4 linked regions of the Homo sapiens genome follow. The protein of the gene in region 4 interacts with the protein of the main gene of each other region in a pairwise test. Each region holds a gene or a part of one and is shown on either strand. Other genes may lie near its edges.

Region 1 (2,699 bases), on a different chromosome or scaffold from region 4:
AGTTCTATATTGCCAAACATCATTCTCTTTTTGCTATATAAATCTTCTATTTCTAATTATTGACCAAATGCTTTACTGAAACTCCGCTTCTGGCCTTTGTTTTGGGATCTGTTACTTTTGTTGCCACCTCCTGATCGCTGTCCTCTCGGGCCTCTACTGCCTTCCCGCTGTCCTCTGAATCTTCTGTTTCCGTCCCGCTGTCCCCTGAAGCCTCGACTGCCTTCCCGCTGTCCCCTGAAGCCTCCATATCCTTCCCGTGGTCCTTCCAGTTCTGGTTGCTCTGTGGCCACAGAGAGCTGCCAGCGTCGTGAATCATGCCATTTCTCCTGTTGAGAGAATGTTTTGTTTTTGTGTGCTTTAATTAGTATTCAATTTTTAAAAAGCATGAGAAAAACAAAATATTTGCCACTTCTTCAAAGAAAAGGTGATAACATAAGTGCTTAACAAGTCACTGGTCAAAAATAACACTGGCCACCCATCATGGTCCAAAAGCCAGTGTCCCTGAAGTGTGGGAAAACACAGTTTCATTATGAGAAATAGCCCTCATCACTACTTCATTTATTAAGTTATTAAACCATTTATTCAACTCAATTGCTACAGGGTATCTACAGCCAAAGGTAATAAAACAAATATATTAAGCACACATTTCTCACAGTATTGAATAAAGATGTAACAATTTTAAATGTCTATGAAAACCTGTAGGCTGGACGTGGTGGCTCATGCCTGTAATTCCAGCACTTTGGGAGGTGGGTGGATCACCCGCGGTCAGGAGTTCGAGACCAGCCTGGCCAACATGGCGAAACCCCCGTCTCTACTAAAAATACAAAAAATTAGCTGGGGGTAGTGATGGGCCTATAATCCCAGCTACTTGGGAAGCTGAGGCAAGAGAATCGCTTGAACCCGGGAGGCGGAGGTAGCAGTGAACCGAGATTGCACCACTGCACTCCAGCCTGGGCGACAGAGCGAGACTCTGTCTGAAAACACACACACACATGCACACACACACACACACACACAAAATCTATATACCATATATAAGTGTTAAAGGGTGGGGAGAGCTGGATATCGTTCACAACTTTGTATAAAGGAAATATAGAAACCAGGTGGGTTCAACTACAAAAATATCAGAATTAAAAAGTTAGGGGGGAATATTCCAAAATTTAATTATCGATTATCTCTTACTAAAGGAACCAGAACTATTGTTTCCCAATCTATTATTCTCTATTTTCATAATTAACATTCTACAATTTAGGTATGTTAACTTTAAAATCTAAGGGAAAAGAATACCTGTATTTCTGTTACTGATGCGGTAGGTACATCAAAGCAAACACCCTAGAAATCAAAGCAAATGGAAGTTAATCCAACCAACGCACATGAAAAATACTCCCTTTAAAAGACCACGTATTCTTTAAAAAAAAGAAAACAAAAAACATAAAGCAAAAAAACCACCAGGTATAATTTTAGATGAACTTTAGACCAAAGCTAATACATTATAGCTGCCAAAAGTACACTGCAGAAAGACAAGGAACATTGAAAAAAAGAACCCCAAATGATTTAGAACTTTCTAACTATAGACAGAGTCTTAGCTATTACACTGTGCTAACCCCCTAGTGGCTATTAGCTACATTTTATTGCTGAGCAAACAGGCTTGGAAAGGTTAGCTGACTTGTCTAAGGCCCCACAGCTATTAAATGGCACAAGTATTTAAAATCTAGTCTGTATGGCTCTAAAACCTATAGTCTAAACTATATACTGCCTTCCATCAGAAAAGCAATGCCAGCTATTCAGAATGACCTAATTAAAAGCAGAAAAACAAGTGATCTTCTATTGTTGATTTTCTGGTTTTTCTTAATTCAGCCTTCTGTAAGAGTATGAAAAAAATAATACAGGACACCATCTTTTTTTTTTCCCTCTTAAGATAGGGTCTTGCTCTACTGCCTAGGCTGGAGTGCAGTGGTGCAATTAACAACTCACTGTAACTTTGAATTCCTACAGGTGCATGCCACTACATCTGGCTTTTTTTTTTTTTTTTTTTTGGTAGAGACAGGGTCTCACTACATTACCCAGGCTGGTCTCAAGAATTATCTTCCCAGCTCAGCCTCCCAAAATACTGAGATTACAGGTGTGAGCCATGGCACCTAGCCAGGACACCATCTTTAATATTAAGTGCCATCCTCTCCAATCAAGGAAATCGTCTAAAAATATAGTCAAACTATGTGTTAACTAATACAGGCACTCCTCTCCCTGCTGTCTTCAACTGCAATATTTTATAAGGAACACCCCTTTCACCCCAAAATTTACCCAATCATAACATAGGTATCATCACCTACTGGTGGATTTTGCCATTCATGGGAATCTTCGCTTACATATTTACGAAGTAGAGTATAATCCCAGGCATTCACTGGGTATAGAGGTAATTAGAAAACAGTTTTTGCCTTTGAGTGTTCTTGAGGCTCTCCATTAGCAAACACAGCAAGGTAAAAGTTTACCTGCATAAACATGTGTCCTAAAGACTCTGAAGTACAGATAAAGACGCCCCTAACATTGCCTGGTAAGATTTAAGGCTAAGCAAAGTCATAAAAGCTACTTTGGAGGAAAAGATTTATATATATATAAAATTTTTTTTTTAAGACGGAGTTTCACTCTTGTTGCCCAAGCTGGAGTGTAATGGCGCGATCTCGGCTCACCGCAACCTCTGC
Region 2 (3,500 bases), on a different chromosome or scaffold from region 4:
TAAATGCCCCTGGAAGGAATACAAATCAGATTCTGGAAAGCCTTACTATTATAATTCTCAAACAAAAGAATCTCGCTGGGCCAAACCTAAAGAACTTGAGGATCTTGAAGGTAAAATGGGGAAAAGTAGTTTTCAATGTATATGTTTTACATATATATGCCATTCACTTTGAAACAATTCCTCCAGAATAGGATTGTTCAAACAAAGGCCTTATTTTTTTTTTTAATTAAATGATTAGAACATTTAAAATGGCGTATAACAGTTTTTTGGGCTCTTATTTTCTTGTTGCTTTAGATCTCAGTTCTGTAGATTTTAAATAGATTTTTATTTGATTTGATTCCACTGAAACTAGGATACCAGAATACCATTGTTGCTGGAAGTCTTATTACAAAATCAAACCTGCATGGTGAGCTGCTTTGATAATTCATTTTCTGTCATACTTAACATTTTTATTAGAGTATGTCACTAATATTCACTAACCATAATTGGATAAATCTGCAGTGAAAAATCTCTAAGAATTCTTTTCATTAAAGGGTTATATTATAAATGAGCTTGTAGCTTTTAAAGTCGTACTTTGGTTTTTAGAAAAAAGATCGTTTATCATTCAATTGAACAAGGAGTTCATATACAAAATTTCCAAGTCCTACTATGAGTGGTGCATACATAGAACATGTGTTTTAACTCATTTCATGGTAATAGATAGTGGAGAACCTTGAATCTGTATCCATTTATATTTTGTTAGTATATTGTCAGACTATATATTTAATGCTAGTTTTGTTTAGCACAGTGTTGCAAAATAGCCTTGATATGTTCTTTATGGAAGAATTAAGGTAAACCAAGTATCATGCCTTACTTATAAAGGGAAAATTTTTCAACATTGGAACTAATCAGAATAACCCTTAAAAATCTAGAAATACTTAATACTAAATATAAAACCTAAGACTTAAAATAGAGATAATAAGTAAGGATTGAAAATCTAGTTTTTATACTCACTTCTAATAGAATCTAGTGTCATAAATTATACAAAACTAGAAGCAGCAGATTGTAGGAGAATGGGGCTAATAAAGTAGATAGTGATGTGGAATGACATCTGGCAGGAAAAGAGAATAAAAATTTCCTAAAAGACTGTCATATTAAGCCCCTTTACCTTTTCCTTGTGCCACCTCATTAGATAGATAGATCATCATTGTATCAGAAAAATGTTAATTTATATTATTAATGATAACTTTGTAAGTATGTTTTTTCAGCCATCCTAAACAGATTTTCAGAAATGTTTTTCTTTAAAGGGTGATAAGTTTTAAAAATTTTTTTTATAAAGAGTTAGGCTTGTATTATTACTTAATGTGGAGAACCTCATTCCCTAGTAATGTTAAATAAAAGGTATTTTTGTTACATCCAAAGGAAAATGTACTGGAATGAAAAATGAAATTGTGCAGATCTTTAAAGCTCAGTTTAAGTTACCTATACTAGCATTGGCTAATAATAATATTGTAGATAGGTAGATTCCCAGTTGATCATTTATGAATTATCAAGCTCATTTCTGATATAACCCTACTACAAATAGTTGGTGTGCGTAACTATCTATCTACTTGTCAATGCTAGTATATATGTGCTGGAATTTTATAATAAATTTGATCCCATTTTGAATTTAGTATCTTAAAAATATATCAAACTAGTCTCATCCCTGAAGAAAATACAGTTTTCATCCAGAATTATGCAGATACTTTCATAGAGTTGTTGCAGCAGCCTTTGGGAAAGCAGCAGCATGGAATAAGCTTTCCTAGTAATTACTGTTATTTAAGTTTGTTGTATTCTTTATTTGCTATACTAGACTTTCGGAGCAAGAATTTGTTCTGTAAAAGTGATTTTTTATTTTTTAGGATGGTAAATGAAATCCTATTGTATGATACTTTATCTTCTTTTAAAGTTTGTTTTCAGTGATTATATTTTAAAACTAGTAGATGACTTTTTTTCTCTCTTTAATAGCAATGATCAAAGCTGAAGAAAGCAGGTAAGCAATTTTGGACATCAATTTTTATTTACAAATTTGGTCTCTCCTATGATATCCTTGTGTTTTCTCAATTTTCATAATACAAATAATTAACATGTTAGGCTTGATATTTTGATGTCCTTGTAGCATTTTGTTGAGGAAAAATTAGGGAGGGGGATATTTACTCAATTTGATGTTTTGCTATACAGTAATTATTAGAATTTGGACTGTATCCCTTAACAAATTAAGAAGACTGTGTTACAGAAGAGTCCCAAATTCCGTTTGAGTTGATTAGGGAATGGACGAAATATATCTGTGTATCTCTTCCTTTATATAGGGTTTCCTCTAAATGGGCAAACTGGAGAAAATTTAAAGTTCTTAGAGAACTTTCTAATACAGGTCATTTTTCGTGGTGTAAATACAGTCTGATAGATTGGGTATTTTATAAATGTGAACGCTTACTGAACTTTTGAGTGCCTGTAATACATTACCATGAATGTTAACGGAATTAAAGTAGTACAGTTACATTCTGTGGTTTTAAAATCTTTTTTAATGGGCTTGGCATTTCTTGCCGTTTTTTCCTTCAATTATTTTTCTTATTATTTGATTTTATGACCATTTTAAAGCTACCTTTATTTAGCTTTCTGATTACAATAATGAAATGACCAGTGTTCTCTTTTTTTAATGTATAGTAAGCAAGAAGAGTGCACCACAACATCAACAGCCCCAGTCCCTACAACAGAAATTCCGACCACAATGAGCACCATGGCTGCTGCCGAAGCAGCAGCTGCTGTTGTTGCAGCAGCAGCAGCGGCAGCAGCAGCAGCAGCTGCAGCCAATGCTAATGCTTCCACTTCTGCTTCTAATACTGTCAGTGGAACTGTTCCAGTTGTTCCTGAGCCTGAAGTTACTTCCATTGTTGCTACTGTTGTAGATAATGAGAATACAGTAACTATTTCAACTGAGGAACAAGCACAACTTACTAGTACCCCTGCTATTCAGGATCAAAGTGTGGAAGTATCCAGTAATACTGGAGAAGAAACATCTAAGCAAGAAACTGTAGCTGAGTAAGTTTAGTAACTTGTCTTCTGAAAATCAGTACCAGATTGCATTAAATAAAAGTAATTGCCAGTTTAGTTAGTGGCCATTAATAGTTTAAATAAATTTTTTTGAGAATCGTAATATCACCGTTAAGACAGTTGATCAGTTTTCAGGCCGAATTTTGGAGGGTTATGCCAGCAAACTTGAAAAATAGTTCAGTGAAATTTTAACAAGTAGAGCCAAGGCTAGGGAGTTGGGGCACAAATCTAAAAGATTGCCAAAAACCTTAGTAAGCAAGATACATCATATTTTGATGCAATATTTTACATCAGATCAGTGCAAAAATTCATGATTAACAAACTATCAGTATTTTCAGTTAAGACAGGTGTATTGTTTCTTCTTTGGTTATTGGTGTTTTGGGTTTCAACCTCCTATAAATCAGTTAAAAAAATACAGCTTTGTAGAAAAA
Region 3 (3,500 bases), on a different chromosome or scaffold from region 4:
TAGCTTTTTTTTTTCTCCTCTGACTTTGGGATGGGAGCTAATATTCATATATGATGGCCATAGGAAAATATGTCAGTTTTACTTCCACAAATCAAACTACTGAATATTTGACCAAAATTTTTCACTTTCTGGCTAAATATCAATGTATCAGTGAAATTCTTTTTTTTTTTTTTTTTTTTTTTCTGAGACAAGTTCTCACTCTTGCCCAGGCTGGAGTGCAGTGGCATGATCTTGGTTCACTGCAACCTCCTCCTCCTGGGTTCAAGCGATTCTCCCGCCTCAGCCTCCCAAGTAGCTGGGATTACAGGCACCTGCCACCACACCTGGCTAATTTTTGTATTTTTAGTAGAGACGGGGTTTCACCATGTTGGCCAAGCTGGTCTCGAACTCCTGGCCTCAAGTGATCCACCCGCCTCGGCCTCCCAAGGTGCTGGGATTACGGGCGGGAGGCACTGCGCCCGGCCTCAGTGAGATTCTTAACACAGGAAGTGACCACTGTCAGTTAAGATGCTTCCTTTTGCAAGTAAGAGAAAAACACAAAAACCAACTCAAACTGGCTTAAACAATAAAGGGAATTATCAGCTTATGTAGGAAAACCCCTAAACAGTAGGGGGGGCGGGCGGGGGGGGCGGGTTTCAGGCACTGGTGAGGGCACTGGCTCTGTTTCTCTGGAATTCTCTCAGCTTCTCATTCCTCTATATGTCAGCTTGGTCCTTTGGCTTGTTTCCCTCTTGGTGGCAAAATGGCCACAACTATTCCTGCCCTCATATTCACACATGGGAGGACTTCTCTTCTTTCAACCACTGAACAAAAGAACTAGGCTTTACTCTAGTTGAGCCAACTTAGATCGCATGCCTTCTCTTGAAGCAATCACTTGCAAGGGGGAAAGGTTTATGCTGATAGGACTGTGCCAGTCAGGGCCCATCCTGGAGCTGCGGGTGGGGGTCAACCCCTTCCAAACATCATGGCTACTATGCAATGGGGAAGGAAAGAATGTCTGCTAGAGAGGCAACCCCAATCTTCACTACAGAATCTCACCTATTACCATTTTTTCCCTCTATCTAAGGAAACCTTTCCTTTCTTTTAAGAAACATTTCTCAGCAGCTCAATACATTAAAATAGATTTAAATGGGACTGCTTAGGCTAGAATGTTTGTGACCGAGCGCAATCTGCTCATACCTGTTCATAAGTTCATTCCAGGAGTTACATCTGTTGAGCATATATTGAAGCCCAATGGACTAACTCAGCCCTTTAATTCTAAAATGGTGAAACCTATGTCTAGAGATGGAATGTGACATGGCCAAGGTCACACAGCCAGTAGGCAGCAGAGCCAGGACTAGAACTTGGATTTCTCAGCTTCTGGTCCAACGCCATCCTTACACAGAATCTTAGGGTCTCTCTCTCTCTGTCTTCCCATCTCTTTCAACAGTATGTGAAAGCCAGGTCCCCCAGAGCCAATCTGCCCCCTCTCTATGCTCTTGAACTTCTAACCATCTATGCCTGGGAAATGGGTACTGAAGAAGACGAGAATTTCATGTTGGACGAAGGCTTCACCACTGTGATGGACCTGCTCCTGGAGTATGAAGTCATCTGTATCTACTGGACCAAGTACTACACACTCCACAATGCAATCATTGAGGATTGTGTCAGAAAACAGCTCAAAAAAGAGAGGTACTGGACCACTGTTTGCCCACCAAATCTTACAGAAAAAAAGAGAGACGGGCTAGTGTAACGTGGCATAGAGTTTTATGGATTGGCTGTATTAAGCAGTAAGGCTGCCACCATAGTTGAGCATCGACCTCCCACACCAACACAGCTGGCATCTCAAGTTGGTGGCTTATCAAAGTCACTGGGGGGCCATGGGGCGGGTAGAAGCCTGTTCCTTGTTTCCTAAGCCACCCTCCACCTTAGCTTGGCCTTCTTGCTCTCTGAAGACCATTTCAGTGCTTTGTAGGAGCTAGCATGGGAAAATGGAAAGAATCTTGGAGACTCAAGTTTAAATCCCAGCTCAGCCATTTTCCTACTGCTATGAGCCTCAATCCCTTATCCATAAGACAGGAGTAAACTGGAACCTACGACATAGGATTGATGTAAGGGTTGGAGAAAATCTGTGTTAAGGATCCACAATATCTAGCATCTGGCAGATGCTGAGTAAATGCTTATATTGGAGCATGTGCTGTCAGCGTCCCATTCATATCCTCTCGGCCTTTACCGTTCTAGGGAAGGTTGGTTCCACTTCCAGCTGTCAGCACCTGCATCCCTTTGCCAGCAGACCCACTCTGAGAAGAGCCCTCCACCAGATCTGGTGGGAGTTGGTGGATAAATACCACAGCTCCCTCACCCAAAAGATGGAAGGAATCTGGGTCTCATTGCGTAACTTTTTTTTTTTTTTTTTAAGACAGAGTTTTGCTCTGTCACCCAGGGTGGAGTGCAGTGGCGCAATCTCCACTCATTGCAACCTCTGCCTCCTGGGTTCGAGTGATTCCCCTCCCTCAGGCTTCTGAGTAGCTGAGATTACAGGCGCCTACAACCCACACCCAGCTGATTTTTGTATTTTTGTAGAGACAGTGCTTTGCCATGTTGGCCAGGCTGGTCTCAAACTCCTGACCTCAGGTGATGCGCCTGCCTTGGCCTCCCAAAGTACTGGGCTTACAGGCGTGAGCCACCGCACTGGGCCCCATTCCATACTCTTTCCTAAAGATCGCCTCCAGTGGACCACAGTAGTAATTACTTCAATACCCACTCTTTGTTGTCTGCCTTCCCTTATCTGTCTCACTGTCTCACTCCCTTATTTGTGCTTCCTGGGATCACTTTCCAAATAAGCCAAATCCTTATCTGGGGATCTGCTTCAGGGGAAGCCCAACCCAGACAACTCTCTGTGTTAGAAGCTCTGGGCCTGTGTAAGCAACATCACAGTATTTAGTGTTCTGTTATGTAGTATTGGGTCTCTTTTGTAAGGAAGAAAAGCCAGGTCTGCTCATGAAAAGAGGATTTATTATAACCATGGCCAGAAAAATCGAGAAAGCATCAGGACCTGAGACTCCCTCTCTCTCTCTGTCACTCTCTCTCATGAACTACAGCACTTTTCCCCTCAGCCTCTGCTTCTCTCTCCACACCTGTCCGGCTCCCCTCTGCCTCCCAGGTATAAGGGATCTCCATCATCCCCATGTCCAAACCCCAGAGAGAACCAGTCTGATTCCTGGTCACGGGACACAGACCCCATGTGTTGGGTCACCTGCCAGCCAACAGAATGAGCCACTTTAGATCAGTGACCCCACCCCATAGGACAGCCTGGCACTTTCAGGCAGGACTGTTTTAGGGAGCAGTCAGGGTTGGGAGGAGCCAGCCTGGAGCCCAAAGTCCAGTTCATTCCAGTAGCCTGTGTCACATTCGATTACACAGATGAAGTCGCAGCTCCCTCCCAAGCCCTGGAGTACAAAGGGCTGGGTTTTTTTTGTTTGTTTTTGGGTTTTGTTTTTTTTTTTTTAATGGAGTCTTGC
Region 4 (4,214 bases):
TAGATTATCAATTATAGAATTATAATTATCAATTATAGAATAATTGATAATTATAGCCTACGTTTGTGTTTGTTCGTTTTTGAGATGGAGACTGAATCTGTCTCCCAGACTGGAGTGCAGTGGTACGATCTCGAATCACTGCAACCTCTGCCTCCTGGGTTCAAGCGATTCTCCTGCCTCAGCCTCCCGAGTAGCTGGCATTACAGGCATGGGCCACCACACCCAGATAATTTTGTTATTTTTAGTAGAGACTGGGTTTCACTTTGTTGGCCAGGCTGGTCTTGAACTTCTGACCTCAAGTGATACACCTGGCTCGGCCTCCCAAAGTGCTGGGATTATAGGCGTGAACCACTGCACCTGGCCTATTTGTATTTTATTTACATCCCACAACCTTACAAAGAATTTGAAATGCTTAACACTTTACAGGTACTTTTAAATTTGTTTTTTTATTCAACAGATACTTAGGTACTGATGAAGTTAAAGTTCCTGCCTTCATAGTGTCTACATTCTGGTGGGATAGGTAGACAATAAAATTAAAATTCCAGGCCGGCCATGGTAGCTCACACCTGTAATCTCAGCACTTTGAGAGGCCCAAATGGGCAGATCACTTGAGGTCAGGAGTTTGAGACCAGCCTGGCCAAAATGATGAAACCGCATCTCTACTGAAAACAAAAATTAGCAGGGTGTGGTGACAGCTGCCTGTAATCCCAGCTACTTAGGAGGCTGAGGCAGGAGAATCACTTGAACCTGTGAGGCAGAAGTTGTAGTGAGCCAAGATTGTGCCACTGCAGTCCAGGCTGCACAACAGACTCCATCTCAATAAATAATTAAAAATAAAAAATAAAGTTATAATTCCAGGTAGTGACAACAAGATACAAGAATAAAAAATAGTGACTGAGGCAGTGGACGGAGTTAAGGTCAGCAGGGAGGGAATATTTTAGATTGAGCGGAAAGAGGTAAGTCTCTCTAAGAAGTGACATTTGCAGAGACCTAAGTGAACAAGGAAGTAATTCATACAGATACGGTAAGGAAGGTAAAGGGAGCAACAAGGGCAAAGGCCCTGAAGTGGGAATGGCTTTAGCATGTTTAAAGAACGAAAAGATGGTTGTTATGTTTGGACTGAGCCTGTTGGCAAGAATTGTGATAGATGAAATTAGAGAGATCCCCAGGCCAGATTATTTAAGATCCAGTCAACCACAGTAAGGTTTTTGGACTTTATTTTGAGTGTGATAAGAAACCTCTGAGCTGGGCGCGGTGGCTCACACCTGTAATCCTAGCACTTCGGGAGGCCAAGGCAGGCAGATCACCTGAGGTCAGGTGGCCAACATGATGAAACCCCGTCTCTACTAAAAATACAAAAAAAAATTAGCCAGGCGTGGTGGCACATGCCTATAGTCCCAGCTACTTGGGAGTTAAGGCAGGAGAATCTCTTGAACCCAGAGGGGGAGGTTGCAGTGAGCCGAGATCGCGCCACTGCACTCCAGCCTGGGTGACAGAGTGAGACTCCGTCTCAGGGAAAAAAAAAAAAAGAAACCTTTGGAGGAGTTTGTGTAAGGAATTGGCATGATCTGATTTACATATTTAAATGGTAATTCTATCTGGAGAATCGATTATAAGGGAAGAAGATTAGAAGCAGGCAGACTAGTAATAAAGTTCTTGTAGTTGTTCAGACAACGCAGTAGTAGCTTGGACCAGGTGCTTATGATGGAGGAAATGAGAATTATTCATATTTGGGATATATTTTAAAGTTAGAGCTAACAGAAATACTGATGAGTTGACCATGAGGTGTAAGGAAAAGGGAAATTAAGAATGATTTTAAGGCTTTTGCCTTTTCAGCAATTTTGTAATTGGTGTTTCTGAGATAGGGAAAATTGGTGGGAGGGGATTGTTAGCACTAGAGAGTCCTATTTTCACCATGTTAATTTTGAGATATCCTTTAGATAAACTAGTGGAGGTGTCAGGTGGACAGTTGAATATTGGAATGGGGAGCTAATGGGAGAAGATAGATTTGTAAAGCATCAGCATAAAGCCAATGAGCTTAAAGCCAGGATCCTCAGAAAGAATGAGTGTGTAAATGAGAAGGAAGCCCAGGACTGAGTCCAATTTAGGCATCATGTAAAGGTGTAGGGCACAGTGGGAGAGGTAGGGTGAAAGGAAATTGAGAAACTGAGATTGCAAAAGGGAATTGAAAAGGAAGAAGACTCGTTTGGAAGCTATATGAAGAAAATATTTTCAAGGAGGGAGTTACCAACTGCATTTGCTGCTGAGAGGTCAAGTAGACAGTGGAGCACATTGAGGAGCTTGTTTGCAGTTTCTCTAGAATGGTGATGAGGAAAACCTGACAGGATGGGTTGAAGTAAGAGCATGAGGTGAAGAACATGGTTGTGTGGTACTCAATGACACCTCATTGTTTTTCTATTATTAATTCTGACCTATAGTTGTGTTTTATGTCTTAAGCTAGCATCACCTAAATATATCATTACTTGTAAAATTTCAAAATTGGTACTTGATTGATCTACTGAAACCTAAAATGCCAAAATGTACTTCTGTTGAGTTTGATGAGAATGCATGTTTAGTTGGAGATTTGAGGTGAAATGCATTAAGGGCTTTGTACCCTCTTACTGGATATCACTTTGAAACACATTATCTATTTCTGTTACTATCAGCAGCATCACTGTAGCAGTTAGAGATTCTAACCAGCAGTCAGACTCAAGAGATGCAAATACTGCTTACCAAAGAAGAGTCAAGGCAAAAGATAGGGTAGATGCAGCTTCTTCATCCCACCAGAGGCCACCAAGCCATTTACCCATATCTAGCAATTACCCAAATTCACTACTTTTTTCTCCCATTTACCCACAACAGGCATGTATGCCTTCCCTAGATAAGGACCATGGTGTATTTAGGACACTTTGACACGTGAAAGCTTTAACCTCTTTTGCCTATCAATCTGTTGTTCTGGTCACGTAGGCATAAGGCCTCCATGCCATCTAATAGCTGCTCCAAACCAGGTGCAACATGGGAAACAGATACAACACCCCCATTAGTCTCTCCAGTTTCCAAGAAGACTGTATTATAGGAGACTGAGGTTATTCTCAAGCAGCCTGTATTATCCCAGGCCTGATATTAATCCTTTGCTCCTATACCACTAGTGATTCAATTCATTCAACAAAATCGAGGCACAATTTATTCAACACATTTTTAAGTGACTGTATGGCAGGGACTGACAATATATCAGTAAACAAACAAAAATCTCTGATTTCATTGATCTTACCATCTAGGAAGGATAAACAACAAAGAAATAAATTGCATAGTGGTGATAGTAATGTTAGAAGATGATAAATGCTATGAACAAAAATAAGGCAGGGGAGTTACTGTGTATGTATCCAGAAATTTGCATTATTAAATATGATTGTGGGAGGGGACCGCACTGAGGTGACATTTAAATAAACACTTGAAGTAGGAGAGCAAGCTGTGTTATCTCTGGGGATATGTGTTTCAAAGAGAACAGGTTTAAAAGACCCCGTTAGACATTGCTGGGTGAGCTTCAAGAAGTGCAAGGACTGTATGGCTGGAGCTGACAAAGCAAAGGGGAAGAGATACTGAAAGTAACTTGAGGAAGGAGGGGGTTAGAAATTGCTGCCCAAGAAATAAACACTGGGATGAGAAGGCCACTTGAAAAGGCTGATTTATGGCTGGGCGCGGTGGCTCACACCTATAATCCCAGCACTTTGGGAGGCTGAGGCTGGCGAATCACCTGAGGTCAGGAGTTCGAGACCAGCCTGGCCAACATGGTGAAACTCTGTCTCTACTAAAAATACAAAAATTAGCCGGGTGTGATTGGCAGTGGTGCCTGTATTCCCAGCTACTTGGGAGGCTGAGGCAGGGAGAATCGCTTGAACCCAGGAGGCAGAGCTTGCAGTAAGCTGAGATCATGCCACTGCACTCCAGCCTGGGCAACAGAGGAAGACTGCCTCAAAGAAAAGAGAAGAGAAGAAGAAAGAGAAGAGAGAAGAGGCTGATTTCTACAGCTTACCAGTTGAATTCTGCCCCTAGAAAGCAGAAATTAACATTTTAAAAATCAAAATTGCCAGGCGCGGCGGCTCATGTCTGTAATCCTAGCACTTTGGGAGGCGGAGGCGGGCAGATCACCAGGACAGCAATTCAAGACAAACCTGGCAAACATGGTGAAACCCCGTCTCCTACTACAAATACAA

Evidence for each region. Proteins that work in one complex are often made in the same cells at the same time.
Region 1: the proteins of LARP7 (region 4) and DDX21 interact in binary tests that used the Homo sapiens proteins (3 or more experiments, as listed by UniProt).
Region 2: the proteins of LARP7 (region 4) and PRPF40A interact in a two-hybrid assay, tested with the Homo sapiens proteins (one large-scale study listed by BioGRID and IntAct).
Region 3: the proteins of LARP7 (region 4) and OASL interact in binary tests that used the Homo sapiens proteins (3 or more experiments, as listed by UniProt).

The regions. Positions count from the first base shown.
Region 1 is NC_000010.11:68,980,170-68,982,868, reverse strand, and holds part of DDX21 (nucleolar RNA helicase 2), read right to left. Parts: intron 1,333-2,699; coding exon 1,288-1,332; intron 327-1,287; coding exon 57-326; 3' UTR 1-56.
Region 2 is NC_000002.12:152,675,962-152,679,461, reverse strand, and holds part of PRPF40A (pre-mRNA-processing factor 40 homolog A), read left to right. Parts: coding exon 1-110; intron 111-352; coding exon 353-406; intron 407-1,986; coding exon 1,987-2,011; intron 2,012-2,682; coding exon 2,683-3,057; intron 3,058-3,500.
Region 3 is NC_000012.12:121,025,747-121,029,246, reverse strand, and holds part of OASL (2'-5'-oligoadenylate synthase-like protein), read left to right. Parts: intron 1-1,429; coding exon 1,430-1,671; intron 1,672-3,500.
Region 4 is NC_000004.12:112,639,876-112,644,089, forward strand, and holds part of LARP7 (la-related protein 7), read left to right. Parts: intron 1-4,214. UniProt on the Homo sapiens protein: RNA-binding protein that specifically binds distinct small nuclear RNA (snRNAs) and regulates their processing and function.